2 separate regions of the Homo sapiens genome follow, and region 1 is linked to region 2. The links come from fine-mapping of genetic effects on gene expression. A gene starts in region 2. The other region holds a variant in brackets. All regions are shown on one strand. Distances are from middle to middle. Region 1 overlaps ALOX5 (arachidonate 5-lipoxygenase). Region 2 holds the start of ALOX5 (arachidonate 5-lipoxygenase).

Region 1 (8,000 bases), 49 kb before region 2:
TTCAGCCTTGACTCTGGTTGCCCCTCAGAGCTCAGGCCTTTGCCTTGGGCCTTTGCACATCTGTTTCCTTCAGGCTGGAATGCTCTGTGCCCCTTTCTTTTCTGCTGTGGACTAAATTGTGCTCCCCAAATTCATGTGTTGAAGCCCTGACCCCCAGTGTGATGGCATTAGGAGATGGGGCCTTTGGGAGGTGATTAGGGTTAGACGAGGTCACGAGGGTGGGGTACCCGTGATGGGATTAGCATCCTCGTAAGAAGAGGAAGGCACCGAGGGCTTATTCATGCCCTGTCCCCCTCTCTCTGCCACGTGACCATGCTGTGGGAACACAGAGACATCTGCAAGCTGGGAAGAGGGCCCTCACCAGCAAGTGGATTGGCTGGCACCCTAATCTTGGACTTCTAGCCTCCGGACCTGTGAGAGACAAATATCTGCCGTTTAAGCCATCTGGTCTGTGGTATTTTGATGTGGCTGTCCCAATAGACTATGCCATTCTCTTACTGCGCACATGGGGTGTATCTGGAGGGCTCACTGGAGTGATGCTGTCTCTGTTCATTTCCTCTGTAGCTCTTACTGCAGCTTAAGTGCAAACTCACGTGTATGAATCTATGCCTGCTGCCCTATGCATGCTGAGGGCACAGTCATGCCTGCACTTTACTCAGCATTGAGCCCAGGCCTTCTAGTGTCCAGAGGGGCTCATGCAGCATCGCCTCATGGACTAAGAGGTGACCTCACCTGGTGCAGGGGACTGTGCCCGGGGCACTCCTCCAGTGGCTCCCCTTCCTGCCCACCCCTGAGGAGGCAGCCCTAGGTGGCCAGGACCCAGTGCTCTGCCTGGACCCACTTCTCAGGTGGAGCATGGCTGGGTCTGAGCTGTAGACACACACCTTGTCATGGGGAAAGCTGGGGAGTCAGGGACCTCCCCACATCCTCCTGATCCAGCAGAATGAGAGGATGGAGGCTGGGGAGAGCCTGGCTGATGGGACACAGGGCTTGGTGACATCCCAGCTCTGTTGTCTCAGGGGAATCACCCTGTGAACATGCATGAAGGCAGCAAACTGGAGCAACCACAGGGGGGAACTCCTAGGATAAGCAAGAGACACTGGGGGTCTCTCCTGCCTGCCCTGCCAGGTCTAGGGGTGCATCCAGGCAGAACAGCAATCCCCTTCCATCCTTTCTTAGCTTAGCAAATGCTTCTCTCCTTTGTCCTGGCTACCCTGGGTCTCCTAGGAGGCCATGATGCTCAGGAGAGGGTCCTGGGGCCACAAGGCTAGAGGCCTTTGTGAGTACTGTCTTTTTCTCCTCATGTGTCAGGATGAACAAGGAGCCTGCAGGTGACCGAGAGGGTGTACTGCTGGAAGTTGCCATGGCACAGCCTGGGCAGTGTGGCTGGCTTTGTGATGGGCTGCATACAGTAGGTGCTCAGTGCTACAGCACCCTGGAGCTGTCGAATAATACCAGCATCATCTTCCAGTCCTTCTGGTACCTTCTTCACTTGGATCCAGCCCCTTGTGGGGAAGGAGGGGCTTTTACACAGGTGCTTGCTTCCAGGGAGGCTGCTGTGGTCTCACCATGGCTACGACCAGCAGCCAGGCACTGGAATACCCAGAGAAGCTTCTTTCAGCCTTGCTGCCTCCTTCCTCCCCCAGCACCCCTCGTCAGCTGAGTGTTCTGGGCTAGGAATGCTTGTCAAGCTGGAGGGGTAAACCTCACTGTAGCATCTGGTGTCAGTCTGGGTGGGGAAAAGAACTTATTTCTGGGAGATGAGAGGCCTACGCAGGCCCCGAGAGCCCTGTAGGGCCTGAAGATGGCCCAGTGCCAGAGGGTGCCCCAGAAAGAGGTCCTGTGCTGGGGCACCTGAGGTCCCGGGTGGTCCCTTGCCCCTGTTCTTTGGAGGAACCAGGAGTGAGTCACCAATTACCCAGCTGGGTCTGTTTGACCTCAAAACAGGAGGTTTACTCTGAAAACAGGGTGGGTCTGGTAGTTCTCAGAAGAAGCCACAGATGTAGGAAGAAGTGGAGTTAGGAGGAACATATTTACATGTCATCTAGAGGCAAAATATTTCTATATCCTTACAGATAACTGGAATATTCAGGGCTTCGAAGACCCGCTTTTGTAAAAAGAAGGACCCTGCAAGCCAGAGAGGGCACCAGGCTTTTTCAAGGCCACACAGGCAGGTAACAGCCACCTTGATCACCTGGCCTAGGGGCAGTGACCTAGCTTTCTCCTGCATCTTCAGCTTTCTCCTGTGCCAAACTGTGGCCCAGGCTGGGCACCAGCTGTTGGCCATGTGCCCGGTGAGCCCCCCACCCCTCGCCCCTACTTCTCCCAGGACGGGCCGCATTTCTGCACTGTCCCGCCTCACTGGGAAGGAAACTCTCTTTCTCAATTTGCTTTAATGAGGCCATTGAGGTTCACCTAACCTCTGTCTCCCTGCTCTTTCCTTCTGCTACCAGCTTTTCCATTTTTTACGCCACAGTTGTGCTGTGCAGGGCAGGAGCAAAGCCTGCTGAGGAGGGCTGGCCCCCTTCCAGGTACAGCAGGTGGCTAGGAGGAACTGCGTGCCAGAATTACTCAGAAGCAGCGGCGAGGAAACCAAGCTGTCGCCAGCCAGAGGTTTAACGGGGAAGGCCTCCTCGGTGACTTCAGCCAAGTTTCAGTTTCCTGCCAGTGGGCACTGAGTTTAACCCACTCTAGGCGGGGAGTGTAGCCATCCAGATTTTAGCAAGGGCCCCAGGGGATTCTGACGCAAGCTATACTTTGAGAACCACTGCTGAAGAGTTTGCAATGTTTTCCAAATTAATTTGACTACAGAACAAATCATTTTTTTGAGGGAAACATGACTTCATGCTTTGTATTAACTCTTGGTCTTATTTTATGATGCATTTTTAACAACATGATGCTACCTTAGCAAATAAAATTGAAATTTTCTAGCCTCGTCTGATTTTTAGATGGGATACCACCCTACATTTTCCAAACAAATTTATTTTACAATGGGACACATCCCTGATTTCATAACAAAATTTAATGAAAGTCAATATGTTTTATAGGCATCAGTTAATAGAAGGGGATTATTTTTTAAATTTCCAAGGATTTCAGAGGCTTTCGGGTAGCATTTGGGAAGTTAAAAGTGGGAGAATCCTACTTGTGTCACAGGAAAAGTGGTTCCTATGAGTGCTTTGGTGACTTGGGGCCAAATGGTTTCTGAGTTGGGATGACGATAAGAGGGGATGTGGTCTTCTTCCCATATACAAACCCACGCTTTGCTTTCCAGTGCCAGGCCAGCAGGCCCCCTCCTCTTCCGGCCTCTCTTTCCTCCGCCATCACTTCTCCCGATCCCCAGCCTGGGTCCTCACCCTTCCTCCTGCTGCTACGTCCCTCCCTTCCTCCACAGGCACCCTGCCCGTCCACTGAGCTCAGGGCCCTTCTCTCCTGGC[C/G]TGGCCCCTCCGCAGCCTTCCTTGCCTGGGGGATATCGCTCCTTCCCTACACCCCTGGTGCCTTTTGAAACAGGGTCTCACTCTGCCGCCCAGGCGGGAGTTCAGTGGCGCAGATCACTGCAGCTTCCACCTCCCCGGCTCAAGCGATCCTCCCGCTCGGGAATCCCCGAACACTGGGATTACAGGCGTGAGCCTCCGCACCCACTCCCTACCGATCATCCCCCTTCAGGACGCTGCCATCCATGTAGCTGGGTCGTCTGGAGCACGGGGCATGTGGCTGGCCTGCGGGGCTGGGGGAGGGCCGGTGGGAGTGGCTGCCCTCAGAGCCCACCCCCTAGGCCTCTGCCTGCCCCCAGGTTCCCTCTCCCCCGTCCCTTGTCGGGAGTCACTCGTCAGCTTCTCTTCTCAGCCCGGCTGCGCAGCGCTCTCAACCCAACCCCTGGACTCATCTTCGCCCCAGCCTCCTTCGTGCCCAGCGTCCCTTGTAAATGACCCCCCCGGCCGGGTGCCCCGCTTTCTCTCTCGGCCTCTTCCGCGTGGTCTGCTCTCCGCCCGCCTGCGCTCGCCCGGCCTCCCTGCCTCTGCGCCTTCACCTGACCGCAAAGGCGGCCAGGGCAGCCTCCGCGCGGCCTGACAGTCACGGCTCCCAGTTTGTCCCTGGACGTGGGAAACTCGGGCTCATAGCGCCTCTACGTACACTGCGGCACAGACTGGCGTTTCCTACGGCGCCTTCACTGGAAAGCGCCCCTGTGGTCCTGGGGAGAGGGCGGCTCCATCCGCCACCCTTCCCGGAGCTGCCCCCGCCCATTCTCATGGGAGGAAATCGCAGGGCGTGTGAGCCCCCGACCCCTCGCCCCCACCTCTTCCAGGACCGGCCGCATTTCTGCACTGTCCCGCCCCACTGGGAAGGAAACTCTCTTTCTCAATTTCCTTTAATGAGGACATTGTCTTTTCAGCCCTGCCACCCCCTGCAATCGTCTTCCAGGCTGCAAACAGCGAGTGGGGAGGTGAACACATCAGCTTTTCCTCCCTCCACACCACCAGGAAATTTCGCAAACCACTTGGCTCTCGGCGGCCTGGCCTCGCCACACCTGTGCCCACAGTCTCTCTCCGCTGCAGCCCCCTGTGCCATTCTCCAGGCCCCACGTACCTCTGCCTGGGCCCAGTAAGACCTGGTCAGATGGCCCCCGGCTGCAAAGCCTTCCTGGGCCCCATCAGAGAGGACGCCCAGGTGAAGCGAGGGTCCCCTGCCCACCCTGCAAGCGCAGGGGCCCTTCCAAGAGTGCAGCCCTAGGCCGGTGTGTGATGGTGGAGACGCGGTCCCAGAGGGCCTGAACCAAGAATGGAGAAGACAAAGGCTGTCTTTAGGGAGAAACTTCCCTGAGGGGCTGATGTGTGCGATCCCATTTTAATCTCACAACCCTGGGGAGGAGCTGGGGCCGGGTCTCATTGTTCATTTGAGGACACCGAGGCTCAGGGAACTTAGACGACTTTCCTAGGGTCCCCCCAACCCCCACCGGCCCAGGGCCCTCTCCCAGGCACCCCTCATCCCCACACAGGCTCCTCTAAGCTGCTTCCTTGTGGTCCAGCCCCCTTGGCTCAGCTCCTCAAATACAGGGACACCTCTTCTCTCCCCCGCAGAACTCAAGGGTCTCCATCCACTGTGCCAGCACAGAGGCGGTGCTCAGAGTGGGGCTAAGCTTACTGTCCAGCCTGCTGGGCCAGGAGGGGCAGAAGGGCCCCTCTCAGGATTCCTTCGCTCTGCTCCTGCCAATAGGCCATCACTCAAGGGGCTAATGACAGGACGATGTGGAGAAACGTGGGCTGCAGCACTTCTGGGGCCAAGGGCAGGGTGGGCGGCACTGGGGAGTACAGGGGAGGGGACCTCACTGGGGCCAGAGGCTTCTAGAAGCTTCTGCAAGAAGGGGCCCCTCACCCATGTCTTGGCCAAGAAGTGGGGAGGGTGGGTGTGGCAAAGGAAACAGCTAGGTCAGAGACAAGAGATGCTCTGCAAAGCCCTGCTGGCTCCCCACGGTGGAGCATCCTATGCATGTAGGACCTGAGAGATGGCAGGGGCGGGTGCGTCCCTATGGATGTATCTCCATTTCTGGGCAGAGACATCTGGGCTCTCACCTGCAATTGAGCCAACCAAGAAATTATATTTACTTTTTAGAGCGAGCCTCCAACAAATTATACAAGCACTTGAGAATAAGCCCTCCCACTGTCTTGAGAGATGGAGCCCAGGGAGGCAGCTGGAAAGATGCTCCTGCCCTCACTCAGGAGAGATGGTGGAGCTGGGAGAGGAGGAGGCACTCCCTGGGACCCAGCAGATGGACTTGACTCAGCAAATAGATGCAACCATATGTGGGGGGTGGGGAGGCCCAGAAAGGCATTACAGGCCAGTGTTCTTAATCCTGGCTATACACTGGAATCCACCAGTAGCCCTAAAATATAACTGTGCTGGACTTCCCCTGGTTCCACAGTTTGTGCAGAGTGGGCAGCATGGAGTCTGTAACACTAAACACACAGGATTGAGAACCATATGTCTAGGCTGTTGTTAGCCATGATGGGGATACATGAAAAGGAGGTGCACAGTTACCTTCTATACCACAGGATAGGTGCTCATTAAACCCTGTTAAAATGGACTGTGACCCAGCTGGCACTCAGGGGCACTCAGGGGCCAGGTGGGTCACACTTTCATTTTAATAGGATTTAATGAGCACCTATTCTGTGACAGCTGCTAAGATACAGAGGCTCCTGAGATACAGAGATGACAATGACCTTCAGAAACACTGAACAGAGATAAGAAAGGCACAGTCTGGCCTTCACTCCACCATTAATTCCTCCATCCATCCATCCATCCATCTATCCATCCATCTCTCTGTCTATACTTCCATCCATCCACCATCCATTCACCATCCACCCATCAATCCATCCACCCATCTATCCATCCATCCATCTCACTATCTGTCATCCATCCATCCATCCACCATCCATGAATCCATCCATCCGTATATCAATTTCTCATCTATCTCTCCATCCATCCCCCATCCACCTCTTCTTCCATCCTTCCTCCTTCCCTTCATCCATCCATTCATCATCCATCCCTCAACCCATCCATCTGCCTGTCCATCGGTTTGATTGTCCATCTGTCCAGTATTCCTCCATTCCCTCCAAACTGGGTGGCAGTACTCTCCACCTCACTACCTCACCATCCTTATTATTCCCTCCAAACTGTCTCTTTCACAAGGGCCTTCTGTCCTGCCTGTCCCATCCTGGTCTGGGACCTATCCCACTAAAGCTACATGGCTTTGATCAACAATCCCAATCCCAGAGTAGGGGAAGGGAAGTGAGCCCCTAACTGCCGTGATGTTTCCAGGGAGATGGTGGATACTGCTGCATTACTAATCCAGATGTTAGGTTTTAATTTTTCTCTCCAGTAGACCCCAATTGTGGTAGGAGAAAAATGCCCCAGCTTTGGACACAAACAGACCTGGATTCAAATCCTGGTTTTGCCAATTTCTGCCTAAATGACTTTAGGCAAACTCCTTGACCTTGACCCCTTGGAGACTCAGTTTCCTCACCTAGAAATGGTCAATAATATTATTTACCTCCCAGGATGGCCATGAAGCTTAAAATAGATTATTGTACCCCCCAAAACACCGACACAATGTTTAGAAATAAATAATATTATTTTAAGCTTTGAAGTCTGGCTGGGTTCTCAGCCTCGTCTACCTGCTGGGTGTGCAGACTCAAAGCCAGGGTCCCACCCTCATAGACTGTCATCTGTGGGTGTGGGGTTGGCCTGGCACTAGCAGGTGCTAATGCTCCTCAGAGGATTCTAGGTGTAAAAGGAAATGAAAATCTTTGGACCCCAATTCACTCTGCCAAAAGGGAAAAATTAAGCTGAAAGCTGAGTGATGCAAGAAACGAAGATAGCTACAGATAAAAGGTGAAAACCTCCACAGGTAGCTCTTGGTGTTCACCTTATCAAGTGCTGATGTACTAAGCGCAAGAGGAATACATAACTGACTATTCCCCTACCTGCTCCTTTTCTTTTGCAACATGTGGATTCAGTAACGTGACCATGCCCTCCCTTTCTTCCTTCCAGCCTGTTCTCCTTTAAATATTGATGCCCTTAAAGACATCTTCGGAAAAAGGCACAGTCCACCAACTGTTCCTGTGGATTTGTGTTCCTTTTTTCCGTGTATGTCTTTTTTTTTATTATTATACTTTAAATTCTAGGATACATGTGCACAACGTGCAGGATTGTTACATATGTATACATGTGCCATGTTGGTGTGCTGCACCCATTAACTCCTAATTAGGTATATCTCCTAATGCTATCCCTCCCCCCTCTCCCCACCCCATGACAGGCCCTGGTGTGTGATGTTCCCCTTCCTGTGTCCAAGTGTTCTCATTGTTCAATTCCCACCTATGAGTGAGAACATGCGGTGTTTGGTTTTTTGTCCTTGCGATAGTTTGCTGAGAATAATGGTTTCCAGCTTCATCCATGTCCCTGCAAAGGACATTAACTCATCCTTTTTTATGGCTGCATAGTATTCC
Region 2 (14,294 bases):
GGGGAGGCTATGGGGAAGAGCTGAGGAAAACAAGGGACGGAGAGAGGGATTGGGGTAGTGGATAGGGAGACCAAGGGGCAGAGAAGGGGGAAAATGTGGGACAGAGAGCCGGAGATTGAGGGAGCAGAGAAGGGGCCTCTGAGAGGTGGCTGGAAGACAGAGTGTAGAGGAAAATTCAGAGCAAAAAAGAAGGGAGAGTTGTAGGGTAGAGAGCAGAAACGGGGGGCATTTAGGGAACTGGGAGCAGGGGAAGGAAGAGGAGGCAGAAGAGGGGGCAGAATGTAGGGAAAAGATGGCTCAGAGGGGGAGACTGGGAGATGAGAGACGGATTGAGGGTCATACCAAAGAAATATTTATGCTCCACTAATATATTCCCATTCACAAGAAGGAGGTATTCTAGAATTAATTTTTCATGAATGTAAGAATACTCACTGACTTAAGAAGCATGAATCATTATAACACTTTTCTACACTTGTTGAACATATTCAAGTATCATATATTAAACACCACGCTATTGCCCTTAGCTTTCTTAAAAGTACCAGCACAGAATGAAATGGGCCAACTAAGATTTCTCAGAAATCTTCAGATCTGTTACAGTTATCGTATCCGATCTGAATTACTTTAAATTTACAGAGTTAAAGAAATAAATCAACTTGTTAAATTTGCCTAGACTTGGGTTAGCCTCTGGAAACAGGGCCATTCTGTGTAGGATCCCGGCTTTCTCCAGCAGACAGTGAGGAGCCAAGGAAGACACAACCGTTTATAGGATAATCCCACCTGCGAAGGACTTGATTCCCAGTCCTGACTGAATCACTATGCGGAACTCTGATGAGAATAACAAGGGACCTGTGACTCACTTTATCAAGGAAAAAATCAGTCCTGTCCATTATTTGACTGAACTATGCCCTGGAGGAGGGGGGTGTTGACCTGCCAATAACTTGGAAATGATTAAATTGTGTGGAAATACCTTTATTGTTATTGTTATCGTTACTACTGTTAACAATACAGATTTTAACACTTTTCCCTGTAAAATGGGATAACCTTGTCTTCTCAGCAAGTACTTCCTCTAGGGTTTCTCTTTTACCTTTACCCAAAAAGGATGATTGTCTTTACAGATACCAAGCTGGGAGAATGAGGAAGTAGTTCTGGGCTGGGCAAGAGAAAGTGTTGAGTAACTTTGCATCAACAGGAACTTTCTCAAAAGCTGATTTTTTCAAGGAAACTTTCAGCCTTAGCTGGTTCCCCACCCTGCGGTAGCCCCCACCCCCAACCACCCCCCGCCCCACCCCTGACTTATAGCCCTCTCAACCCAATGGAAATGTGACATGCAAATCTCTCCTGAAATTTGCCCCTGGGATTCCGGCTGAGGTGTTTAATTATAATGTCATTTGAATGACTTCTCAGGGTAGGGGAAGACAGACCGAGAGAGGGAGATAGTGGACAAAACAGTGCCTTCACTCTTTGTCCGAAGAGCCCGCTATGGCCACGTTATCATGTCCCCTGCAGGAGGAAAGCACACACGGGGTGCCCGTGCTGTGCAGTGTGAGCACACCAATGGCCTGTGCTTCTAGAACCTTATGATGTGTGGAGGAGAATGGGGAGGAGGAAGCACTTACAAAGGGGAAGTAGCCTGTACCCTGTCCTTCTCCCCCAGGTGTGGGGAATCCATGAAATAATGGAAGTAAATGAAGGTGCGTCAGAAATGGCAGAGGGTGCCATCACCCTAAATGGACGACACATTAACTCCAGGGCACCGCAGTCCTCAGGGTCAGTTCCCCGACTGGGGCAACTAAGCAACTGAAGGTTGCTCTTGTACTCAACACCTAACTCTTCTTGAAGGGAGCTCAAGCCAGGATGCTAGTGAACTTGGCTGAGGGCCATGTCGTGCTACAGCGAGGGTATGGGCTCCTGGATAGGAATCGAGCCCATGGAGAGCTTGGAATCCAGAAAAAGAGTAGTTTTTACTTACTTTAGGCTCTGCACACCTAAAACACAAATTTTATCCAAGAGTAATCAGTTGAAACATGAACTTGCCGGTTGTATTTGTCCATTATGAGCAATTTCACAAGGTTTGATCAAATAATAAACTAAATGGTGAGAAGGCAGCTTGGTAAAGTCTAAATCTTTTTGGTCCAGTTAGGAGCTGGGGTGGGGTGGAAGGGAACTGATATTCCCTGCGCACCTGCAGTATGTCTGGGACTATTACCAGTCATTTACGGAGCGCTTCCTCTGTGCCAGGTACTGGATTAGGCACTTCATTAAAGGCTCAGTGAGAACTGCGACCTGCCCATGCTCATGGAAAAGAGTCGTGGGGCTGGAATTCAGGTCCAGATCAGCATTAGGAACTAGCTTCCAAATGCTGAGGGCTCCCTCGCGTCCTCACACCTAGCGTGGAAGTGTTCCCTGGTGTACATTCTGCTGGGAGGGAGTGCAGCCCCTCCATTTAGGAAAAGCCTCTCCTGGCCTGGGTTCTGTTCCTTCCCTTTAATTTCCTCTGGGGACTGTCCTGAGAATGTAAGCTGCCCAGGTGCCGTCTGAGCCACCAGATGGGCCTGGGCTCACCCATGACTCATGGACCAGACTGAAGCCAACCCTCCATTTTCAGCTGGGGAAACTGAGGCCCAGACAGACGGTAGAGTGAGCTGGTGGTCATGTCTGGACAGAACTCAGGCCTCTGGACCCGCTGACGTGCACCCTTCCCCACGGCTCACAGCTGGCTGCTCCGAGGTGCCCTCAGAGTTCTGTGAGCATGACTCATCTGCCTCTCCCTCCCTGTGCGACCTGCAGAAGGAGCCTAAGGAAGAGGTGGCACAAGAAACGCGGCCCAGTGAAGGGGGCTCCGGAGCCTCGGAGCCCAGATCTTGAAGTGGAGGGGAAACCTTGGGCCTTCTCCTCCCAGGGAAGACGCCTTGCAGGCGGCACGCGGGAAGTCTCCGTTTCCGACAGGGGTCGCGGCCGCCGCGAGGGGTCCTGGACGCTTGCCCACCAGGGTACCCACCGGCCACTGGGAGCCCAGGGCACGCCCCACCGCAGTTCTGCCCTCCCTGACAGGGTCCTGGACACCCCCAGTCCTGTCCGGGCCGCCCCGACGGGCCCTCGGCGCCCCCGCCCAGGCCTCTGCCGTCCAAACCGGGTCCCGGACGCACCTCAGCCCGCGCTCCACCCGTGCCCCGCCCGCGCTCACCGCGCCACGCTCGAAGTCGTTGTAGAAGGGCTTGTCCAGCAGGTGCTTCTCGCTGCAGCCCGCCGAGCCCACGAGGCTGAGGTAGATGTAGTCGTCAGTGCCGGCGAACCACTGGCTGCCAGTGGCCACGGTGACCGTGTAGGAGGGCATGGCGCGGGCCGCGGGAGCAGCGAGCGCCGGGAGCCTCGGCGCGGCGGTCCAGGTGTCCGCATCTAGCGCCGCAGCCTCCTCCCACCACTGGTCCCTGGCCCCGGTCCCGGCCCCGCCCCGGTCTGGCTCCAGGCTCCCGGCTGCCCCCGCCCCCGCCCCCGCCCCCGCCCCCGCCCCCGCAGTACTTCTCTCCCACTCTTCACGCGGCGCCGACTGGGCGGGACCTCGCCTCGGGCGGGGCAGGGGCCTCGCTCCTGGGTCTCTCCTCAGCGAGGTGTCTGTTCCTGCAGCCAGGGGACTGGGGCAACCTCGGCTGCCACCCCTCATCCATTCGTTCACTCGTTCTCTCCTGAATTGCTTCCACCCTTTGCCCTGCCTGCCTGCCTCGGCTTCGCCCAAGGCCAGGCTCCTGTAGGCCCTGGGGTGGAGCTGCGGGGACTCCCTACAAATCTAGGCACAGCCTCTGCTCTCCCCAAGTTCTCAGTGCCACTTGCGGTACTTGGAGCAGGGGTGCTCCGGGAGTCTGCAGAGGAAGAGCGACCCATGAGAGAATCAGAAGGGCTTCCTGGAGGAGGCCACCCCAGCGCTGATACTGAGGATGGATTCTGGAGCACAGAGGCTCCTTCAGCGCGGGCTTCTTCACTGGCTGGACCTGCGGCTCCTGGCGGGGGCAGGCGGGCGCCGAGACCGCGCCCAGGCCCAGAGATGGCCAGTGGTCGCGGGAGGCAGGCGGGACGGCACATCTGGACATGCGGGGCTGTCTAGGGGAGGCCAGGGGTCACGGGTCGGCTCTCTGAATCGCGGCGGGCAAATGCCTGGAAGGGTGTGGAGAAGGTTTCGCGCGCTCCTGGGCGGCTTCCCGCGGCTGGGGCCTGACCCCCAGGTTCCCGCCCACTCCTGGCGCCCGCCTCTCCCAGCCCCGCCGGCAGCGCAGGGTCTGACGGGCACACAGTCGCGTGTATTGATCTCGGCTAAGTTTAAACACTAGCTCACCGTGCGTGGGGCGGCGGGGATGTGAAGTCCCCAAAGGCGGCTGCCTACATTCTCACCAACGCTTCATGTCTGTGAAGCAGCAGAGTCCCTGTAGCATCTCCTCATACTGTCTTGGGTTTGTGCACCTGGCAAATGGCTTTGAACATCTTTTCACATGCTTGTTGGATATCTGTATATTTTTGGAGAGATGTATATTCAGATGCTTGACTCTTTGGAAAACTGGGCTATTTATCTTTTTTATCATTGAATTGCATTATTTATATATCCTGGATAGAAGTCTCTAATCGGATACATGACTTACAGACATTTTTATTGCTTCTGCGGGTTGTGTTTTCACTTTCTTGATGATGTTTGAAGCACAAAAGTATTTAACTTTAAGTCCAATTTCTTTTGTCGCTTGTGATTTTGGGGTCCTATCTGAGAAACCACTGCCTACAATAACATCTTAAAGATTTACTCCTAGGTTTTCCTCTAGGATTATTATAGTTTTAGCTTTTCATTTACATCCGTGACCCATTTTGAGTTAGTTTTTATGCATGGAGCGATAGAAGAATTCAAATTCATTGTGTTGCATGTGCATGTCCGGTTGTCCATGCATCATTTGTTGAATTCATTATTCTTTTCCCATTGCGTTGTCTTGACACCTTATTAAAAAGTAATTCATTATAAACATAACGGTTTATTTCTGGACATTGATTCTAGTCCACTGATCTGTAATGTACATGCTATACAGTGCCACACTGCTTGATTACCGCAGTGCTATAGTAAGTTTTGAAATTGGAAAATGTTAATCCACCAACGCTGTTCTTTATTTTTCAATATTGTTTTGGTTATTCTGGATCCTTTGAGATTCCATATAAATTATAGAATCAGCTTGTCAATTTCAGCCAAAAAGCAAGCTAGGATTTTGATAGGGGTTGAGTTGAAGCTGTAGATCAATTTGGGGAATATTGTCACTTTAACAATATTAAGTCTTCTGATCCATAGAATATGTTTCAGCTTATTTAAATCTTTTCTTTTCTTTTCGACTCTTTGGAGTCTCCCTCTGTTGCCCAGGCTAAAGTGCAGTGGTACAATCTCGGCACACTGCAACCTCTGCTTCCCAGGTTCAAGTGATCCATTTACTTAAATCTTTTCTGATTTATTTCAAAATATTTTGTAGTTTTCAGTGCACTTTTTATTTCTAAATAATTTATGTTTGATACTATTGTAAATGGAATTTTAATTCATTTTGAGATTGTTAATTGCTAGTATATAGAAAAACACTTGATTTTTGTACATTCATTTTATATTCTGCAAACTTGCTGAACTTGTTTATTAGTTCTAATGGTTTGTGTGTGTGTACATGTGCACATTTTCTATATGCAAGATCATGTCATGAGCGAGTAGAGATAGTTTTACTTCTTCTTTTATTTGGAAGCCTTTTATTTCTTTTTCAGGGATAATTGCCCTAGCCAGAACCTCAGTACAAGGTCAAATGGAAGTGGCAAAAGCAGGCATCTTTGTCTTGTTCCTGGTTCAAGAGGTGAACACCCAGCCTTTCTGTATTAAGTTTGATGCTAGCTGGGGGTTTCCACAGATGCCATTTATCAGGTTGAGGGAGTTCCCTTTTATTTCTTTTGTTTTAAAGTGTTTTTATCATGAAATTTTCTGTATCAGTCGAGATACGAAATTTTTTCCTGTATGCTATATTAATATTATGATTATTTTCGTTTTAAAATATTTGATTGACAAATCAAAGTTTCTATTTCAAGGGGTAAAATGTGATGATTTGATATATGTATATATTGAATGCTGATTGTCACAGTCAAATTAACATATCTATCACCACCTATAGTTACCATTTGTGTGTGTGTATGTTGGGGGGGTGCTGGGGATGCTTAAAATCTGCTCTTATCCAATTTCAAGTAATAACGCAGTTATAAACTATAGTCACCATGCTGTACATTTGATCCCCAGAACTTATTCATCTTTTTTTTTTTTTTTTTTTTGAGACAGGGTTTCGCTCTGTCACCCAGGCTGCAATGCAGTGGCACTATCTTGGCTGACTGCAGCCTTGACTTTCCAATTTCAAATGATCCTCCCCCCTCAGCCTCCTGACTAGCTGGGACTACAGGTGTATGCCACCACTCCCAGCTGATTCTTTTATTTTTATTTTTTGTAGAGATGAGGTCTCACTTTCTTGCCTAGGCTGGTCTCAAGCAATCCCTCTGCCTCAGCCTTCCAAAGTATTGGGATTACCAACATGAGCCATCGCACCTGGCCTTCATCTCATAACTGAAAGTTTATACTCTTTGCCCAATATTTTGCTTCTTCCCCACATCCCCTAGCTCCTGATAAATACTGTTCTACTTATTCGTCTTCAAGTTTGAAATTTTTAGATTCGCATATAAATGAGATCATACAATATTTGTATTTCTGTGTCTGGCTTATTTCACTTAACATAATGTCCTCTGGGTTCATTCATATCGTCACAAATGGCAGGGTTTCCTTCTTTGTTATGGCTGAAAAATAGTCCATTGTGTATGTATACATGCACACCCCTCCCCCCATTTTCTTTATCCGTTGATGGACATTTAGATTTTTTCCTTATCTTGGCTACTGTGAGTAAAGCTGCAATAAACAAGGAAGTACAGATATCTCTTTGACATAGTGATTTGATTCCTTTGGATGTACACTCATAAGTGGAATTGCTAGATTGTATGGTAGTTCTATTTTTATTTTTTGAGGAACCTCCATTCTATTTTCCATAAAGGCTGTTGCAATTTACATTTCTACCAACAGTGTACAAGGGTTCTTTTTTCTCCATGCCCTTGCCAATATTCATTGTCTCTTGTGTTTTTCATAATAGCTTTCCTAACAGGTGTGGAGTGATATCTCATTGTGGTTTTGATTTGCATTTCCCTGATGATTAGTGATGTTGAACGCTTTTTCCTGCACTCGTTGGCCATCTGTGTGTCTTCTTTGAAAAAATGTCTATTCAGGTCCTTTGCCCATTATAAAACAGGTTATTATTTTTTTGGTATTGAGATATGTGAGTTCCTTATATATTTTCTATATTTTGATATTAACTTCTCATCAGGTATATGGTTTGCAAATATTTCCCTCCATTCTGTAGGTTGCCTTTTCATGTTGTTGACTTTCTTTTGCCATGCAGAAGCTTTTTAGTTTGATGTAGTCCTACTTGTTTATTTTTTCAAAAGTCTGTGCTTTTGGTGTAATATCCCAAAAAATTATTGCCAAGGCCAACGTCAAGGAGCTTTTCCCCTATGTTTCTCTCTAGGAGTTTTTGGTTTCAGATCTTACATTTAAGTCTTTAATTCATTTCAAGTTAATTTTTGTATATTAACTTGGGTCCAGTTTTGTATATTAAAAGGGTCTAATTTTATTCTTTTGTATGTGGATATGCAGTTTTCCCAACACCACTTATTGAAGAGATGAGATTATATTAATTTTATTTATAGCTATTGCAAATGGGAAATGGGATTACTTCCTTGATTTCATTTTCAGATTGTTTGCTATTGACATATAGAAATGCTACTGATTTTTGTATGTTAATTTTGTATCCTGAAACTTTACTGAATTTATCAGTTCTAATCATTTTTTTATGGAGTCTAGGTTTTTCCAAACAGAAGATCATACCATCTGCGAACAAAGGTAATTTGACTTCTCTCTTCCCAGTTTGGATGCCCCTTATTTCTGTCTCTAGTCTGTTCTAGCTAGGACTTTCAGTACTATGTTCCACTAACACTGGTGAAAATGAGCATCCTTGTCTTGTTCCAGATCTTAGAGGAATGACTTTCAGTTTCTCCCCATTTAGTATGATTCTAGCTGTGAGTCTGTCATATATGTCTGTTTATTGTGTTGAGGTATGTTCCTTCTGTCTCCAGTGTTTTTGAGGGTTTTTGTCATGAAGAGATGTTTAATTCTCTCAAATACTTTTTCAGCATCAATTAACATGACCATATGGTTTTTCTTCTTCATTCTGTTGATATGATATGTTACACTGACTGATGTGTATATGTTGAACCATATTTGCATCCCTGGGATAAATCCCATTTGGTCATAATGAATGATTTTTAATGTGATGTTGAATTCAGTTTGCTAGCATTTTTTGAGGATTCATCAATATTCATGTGAGATATTGGCCTATAGTTTTCTTTTTTTGATGTGTCCTTGGTTTTGATATAGGAGCAGTAATGGCCTCATAGAATAAGTTTGGAAATATTCCCTCCTCTTCTACTTTTTGGAATAGTTTGAGTAGGATTGGTATTAGTTCTTTAAATGTTTGATAGAATTCAGCAGTGAAGCCATTGGGTCTCAGGCTTTTCTTTGCTGGGAAAATTTTAATTATGGCTTTGATCTTGTTACTTGTTTTTGGTCTGTTCAGATTTTGAATTTCTTCATGGTTGAATCTTGTTAGGTTGCGTGTGTCTACGAATTTATCTATTTCTTCAATATTTTCCAATGTTTGGCATACAGTTGCTCATAGTAGCCATTAATGATCCTTTGAATTTCCGCAGTATCAGTTATAATGTCTGCTTTTTCATCTCTGATTTTATTTATTTGGGCCTTCTCTTTTTCTTAGTCTGGCTAAACATTTGTCAATTTTGTTTATCTCTTTAAAAAGCCAACCTTTCATTTTTGTTGATCTTTTGTATTGTTTTCTTCATTTCAATTTTATGTGTTTCTTTTTTTTTGGGTTGGGAAGTTTAGAGAATGGATTGATAGAGAAGTTTAATGGTATACTTCGCTGATGCTTAAAAATTGTACAGTCTAACAAGTGATCTCACTCTTTCTAAACTGCATTCTACTATCCTGTGTGAAAAAGGGAAATGGAAACTTCTTCACAGAATTAAAATTTAGATAAGAAAATCTAAACTTAAGGTTGTTATTTTTGCTATTTACTATTGTGATGTGGTATTACCCTGGCACCATGGAATGTGCGGAAGTGAAAGCCATCTGCTCCCCAGCCACTCCTAATGTTGGAAGGGGATTTATTTTAACAATTTGGTGTGTATGCCTGAATACTTTCCATGTGTATCCAGACACATAGTGCACATGCAGAGTTATATTAGGTATACCCATCTACAATTTGCTAGTAACATTTTCTTTTTTTCATTTTTATTATACTTCAAGTTCTAGGGTACCTGTGCACAAAGTGCAGGTTTCTTACATAGGTATAGATGTGCCCTGTTGGTTTGCTGCATCCATCAACTCATCATTTACATTAGGTATTTCTCCTAATGCTATCTCTCCCCCAGTCCACCACCCCCCAACAGGCCCTGGTGTGTGATGTTCCCTGCCCTGTGTCCAAGTGTTCTCATTGTTCAGTTCCCATCTATGAGTGAGAACATGCGGTGTTTGGTTTTCTGTCCTTGTCATAGTTTGCTGAGAATGATGGTTTCCAGCTTCATCCATGTCCCTGAAAAGGACATGAACTCATCCTTTTTTATGGCTGCATAGTATTCCATGGTGTATATGTGCCACATTTTCTTAATCCAGTCTATCATTGATGGACATCTGGGTTTGTTAGAAGTCTTTGCTATTGTGAATAGTGCCACAATAAACATTCGTGTGCATGTGTCTTTATAGTTGCACCATTTGTAATCTTTTCGGTATATACCCAGTAATGGGATTGCTGGGTCAAATGGTATTTCTAGTTCTAGATCCTTGAGGAATTGCCACACTGTCTTCAACAATGATTGAACTAATTTACACCCCCACCAACAGTGTAAAAGCATTCCTATTTCTCCATGTCCTCTCCAGCATCTGTTGTTTCCTGACTTTAATGATCGTCATTCTAACTGGTGTGAGATGGTATCTCATTGTGGTTTTGATTTGCATTTCTCTGATGGCCAGTGATGATGAGCATTTTTTCATGTGTCTGTTGGCTGCATAAATGTCTTCTTTTGAGAAGTGTCTTTTCATGTATTTTGCCCACTTTTTGATGGGGTTGTTTTTTTCTTGAACATTTGTTTAAGTTCTTTGTAGATTCTGAATATTAGCCCTTTGTCAGATGAGTAGATTGCAAAAATTTTCTCCCATTCTGTAGGTTGCCTATTCACTCTGATGGTAGTTTCTTTTGCTGTGCAGAAGCTCTTTAGTTTAATTAGATCCCATTTGTCAATTTTGGCTTTTGTTGCCATTGCTTTTGGTGTTTTAGACATGAAGTCCTTGCCCATGCCTATGTCCTGAATGGTAATGCCTAGGTTTTCTTCTAGGGTTTTTATGGTTTTAGGTCTGACATTTAAGTCTTTAATCCATCTTGAATTAATTTTTGTATAAGGTGTAAGGAAGGGATCCAGTTTCATCTTTCTACATATGGCTAGCCAGTTTTCCCAGCACCATTTATTAAATAGGGAATCCTTTCCCCATTTCTTGTTTTTCTCAGGTTTGTCAAAGATCAGACAGTTGTCGATATGCAGCATTATTTCTGAGGGCTCTGTTCTGTTCCATTGATCTATATCTCTGTTTTGGTAACAGTACCAAGCTGTTTTGGTTACTGTAGCCTTGTAGTATAGCTTGAAGTCAGGTAGTGTGATGCCTCCAGCCTTGTTCTTTTGGCTCAGGATTGACTTGGTGATGCGGGCTCTTTTTTGGTTCCATATGAACTTTAAAGTAGTTTTTTCCAATTATGTGAAGAAAGTAATTGGTAGCTTGATGGGGATGGCATTGAATCTGTAAATTACCTTGGGCAGTATGGCCATTTTCACAATATTGATTCTTCCTACCCATGAGCATGGAATGTTCTTCCATTTGTTTGTATCCTCTTTTATTTCGTTGAGCAGTGGTTTGTAGTTCTCCTTGAAGAGGTGCTTCACATCCCTTGTAAGGTGGATTCCTAGGTATTTTATTCTCTTTGAAGCAATTGTGAATGGGAGTTCACTCATGATTTGGCTCTCTGTTTGTCTGTTGTTGGTGTATAAGAATGCTTGTGATTTTTGTACATTGATTTTGTATCCTGAGACTTTGCTGAAGTTGCTTATCAGCTTAAGGAGGTTTTGGGCTGAGACAATGGGGTTTTCTAGATATAAAATCATGTCATCTGCAAACAGGGACAATTTGACTTCCTCTTTTCCTAATTGAATACCCTTTATTTCCTTCTCCTGCCTGATTGCCCTGGACAGATCTTCCAGCACTATGTTGAATAGGAGTGGTGAGAGAGGGCATCCCTGTCTTGTGCCAATTTTCAAAGGGAATGCTTCCAGTTTTTGCCCATTCAGTATGATATTGGCTGTGGGTTTGACATAGATAGCTCTTATTATTTTGAGATACGTCCCAGCAATACCTAATTTATTGAGAGTTTTTAACATGAAGTGTTGTTGAATTTTGTCAAAGGCCTTTTCTGCATCTATTGAGATAATCATGTGGTTTTTGTCTTTGGTTCTGTTTATATGCTGGATTACATTTATTGATTTGCATATGTTGAACAAGCCTTGCATCCTAGGGATGAAGCCTACTTGATCATGGTGGATAAGCTTTTTGATGTGCTGCTGGATTTGGTTTGCCAGTATTTTATTGAGGATTTTGGCATCAATGTTCCTCAAGGATATTGGTCTAAAATCCTCTTTTTTGGTTTTGTCTCTGCCCGGCTTTGGTATCAGGATGATGCTGGCCTCATAAAATGAGTTAGGGAGGATTCCCTCTTTTTCTATTGATTGGAATAGTTTCAGAAGGAATGGTACCAGTTCCTCCTTGTACCTCTGGTAAAATTCGGCTGTGAATCCATCTGGTCCTGGACTCTTTTTGGTTGGTAAGCTATTGATTATTGCCACAATTTCAGCTCCTGTTATTGGTCTATTCAGAGATTCAACTTCTTCCTGGTTTAGTCTTGGGAGAGTGTATGTGTCGAGGAATTTATCCATTTCTTCTAGATTTTCTAGTTTATTTGCATAGAGGTGTTTGTAGTATTCTCTGATGATAGTTTTTATTTCTGTGGGATCGGTGGTGATATCCCCTTTATCATTTTTTATTGCATCTATTTGATTCTTCTCTCTTTTTTTCTTTATTATTCTTGCTAGCGGTCTATCAATTTTGTTGATCCTTTCAAAAAACCAGCTCCTGGATTCATTAATTTTTGAAGGGTTTTTTTTGTCTCTGTTTCCTTCAGTTCTGCTCTGATTTTAGTTATTTCTTGCCTTCTGCTAGCTTTTGAATGTGTTTGCTCTTGCTTTTCTAGTTCTTTTAATTGTGATGTTAGGGTGTCAATTTTGGATCTTTCCTGCTTTCTCTTGTGGGCATTTAGTGCTACAAATTTCCCTCTACACACTGCTTTGAATGCATCCCAGAATTTCTGGTATGTTGTGTCTTTGTTCTCATTGGTTTCAAAGAACATCTTTATTTCTGCCTTCATTTCGTTGTGTACCCAGTAGTCATTCAGGAGCAGGTTGTTCAGTTTCCATGTAGTTGAGCAGTTTTGAGTGAGTTTCTTCATCCTGAGTTGTAGTTTGATTGCACTGTGGTTAGAGAGACAGTTTGTTATAATTTCTGTTCTTTTACATTTGCTGAGGAGAGCTTTACTTCCAAGTATGTGGTCAATTTTGAAATAGGTATGGTGTGGTGCTGAAAAAAATGTATATTCTGTTGATTTGGGGTGGAGAGTTCTGTAGATGTCTATTAGGTCTGCTTGGTGCAGAGCTGAGTTCAATTCCTGGGTATCCTTGTTGACTTTCTGTCTTGTTGATCTGTCTAATGTTGACAGTGGGGTGTTAAAGTTTCCCATTATTAATGTGTGGTAGTCTAAGTCTCTTTGTAGGTCACTCAGGACTTGCTTTATGAATCTGGGTGCTCCTGTATTGGGTGCATATATATTTAGGATTGTTAGCTCTTCTTGTTGAATTGATCCCTTTACCATTAAGTAATGGCCTTCTTTGTCTCTTTTGATCTGTGTTGGTTTAAAGTCTGTTTTATCAGAGACTAGGATTGCAACCCCTGCCTTTTTTTTGTTTTCCATTTGCTTGGTAGGTCTTCCTCCATCCCTTTATTTTGAGCCTATGTGTGTCTCTGCCCGTGAGATGGGTTTCCTGAATACAGCACACTGATGGGTCTTGAATCTTTATGCAATTTGCCAGTCTGTGTCTTTTAATTGCAGCATTTAGTCCATTTACATGTAAAGTTAATATTGTTATGTGTGAATTTGATCCTGTCATTATGATGTTAGCAGGTTGTTTTGCTCGTTAGTTGATGCAGTTTCTTCCTAGCCTCGATGGTCTTTACATTTTGGCATGATTTTGCAGCGGCTGGTACCGGTTGTTCCTTTCCATGTTTAGCACTTCCTTCAGGAGCTCTTTTAGGGCAGGCCTGGTGGTGACAAAATTTCTCAGCATTTGCTTGTCTGTAAAGGATTTTATTTCTCCTTCACTTATGAAGCTTAGTTTGGCTGTATATGAAATTCTGGTTTGAAAATTCTTTTCCTTAAGAATGTTGAATATTGGCCACCACTCTCTTCTGGCTTGTAGAGTTTCTGCCGAGAGATCCGCTGTTAGTCTGATGGGCTTCCCTTTGAGGGTAACCCGACCTTTCTCTCTGGCTGCCCTTAACATTGTTCCCTTCATTTCAACTTTGGTGAATCTGACAATTATGTGTCTTGGTGTTGCTCTTCTCGAGGAGTATCTTTGTGGCGTTCTCTGTATTTCCTGAATCTGAATGTTGGCCTGCCTTGCTAGATTGGGGAAGTTCTCCTGGATAATATCCTGCAGAGTGTTTTCCAACTTGGTTCCATTCTCCCCGTCACTTTCAGGTACGCCAATCAGATGTAGATTTGGTCTTTTCACATAGTCCCATATTTCTTGGAGGCTTTGTTCATTTCTTTTTATTCTTTTTTCTCTAAACTTTCCTTCTCACTTCATTTCATTCATTTCATCTTCCATCGCTGATACCCTTTCTTCCAGTTGATCGCATCGGCTCCTGAGTCTTCACGTAGTTCTCGAGCCTTGGTTTTCAGCTCCATCAGCTCCTTTAAGCA

What was found.
Region 1: its variant is fine-mapped to the expression of ALOX5 in esophagus mucosa (GTEx, PIP 0.94).

The regions. Positions count from the first base shown.
Region 1 is chr10:45,415,239-45,423,238 of GRCh38, reverse strand. The region is part of intron 4 of ALOX5 (arachidonate 5-lipoxygenase); the gene reads right to left. Among named protein-coding and RNA genes, the nearest start is that of ALOX5, 45 kb to the right of the region's middle. RefSeq lists enhancers at 2,385-2,886, 2,915-3,606, 3,607-4,300. The variant C/G (reference allele first, on the strand shown) is at 3,435.
Region 2 is chr10:45,363,320-45,377,613 of GRCh38, reverse strand. ALOX5 (arachidonate 5-lipoxygenase) reads right to left here and starts at 3,398. Exons shown (of 14, transcript NM_000698.5): 1 at 3,185-3,398. The coding sequence starts at 3,334. RefSeq lists enhancers at 2,411-3,019, 3,020-3,630.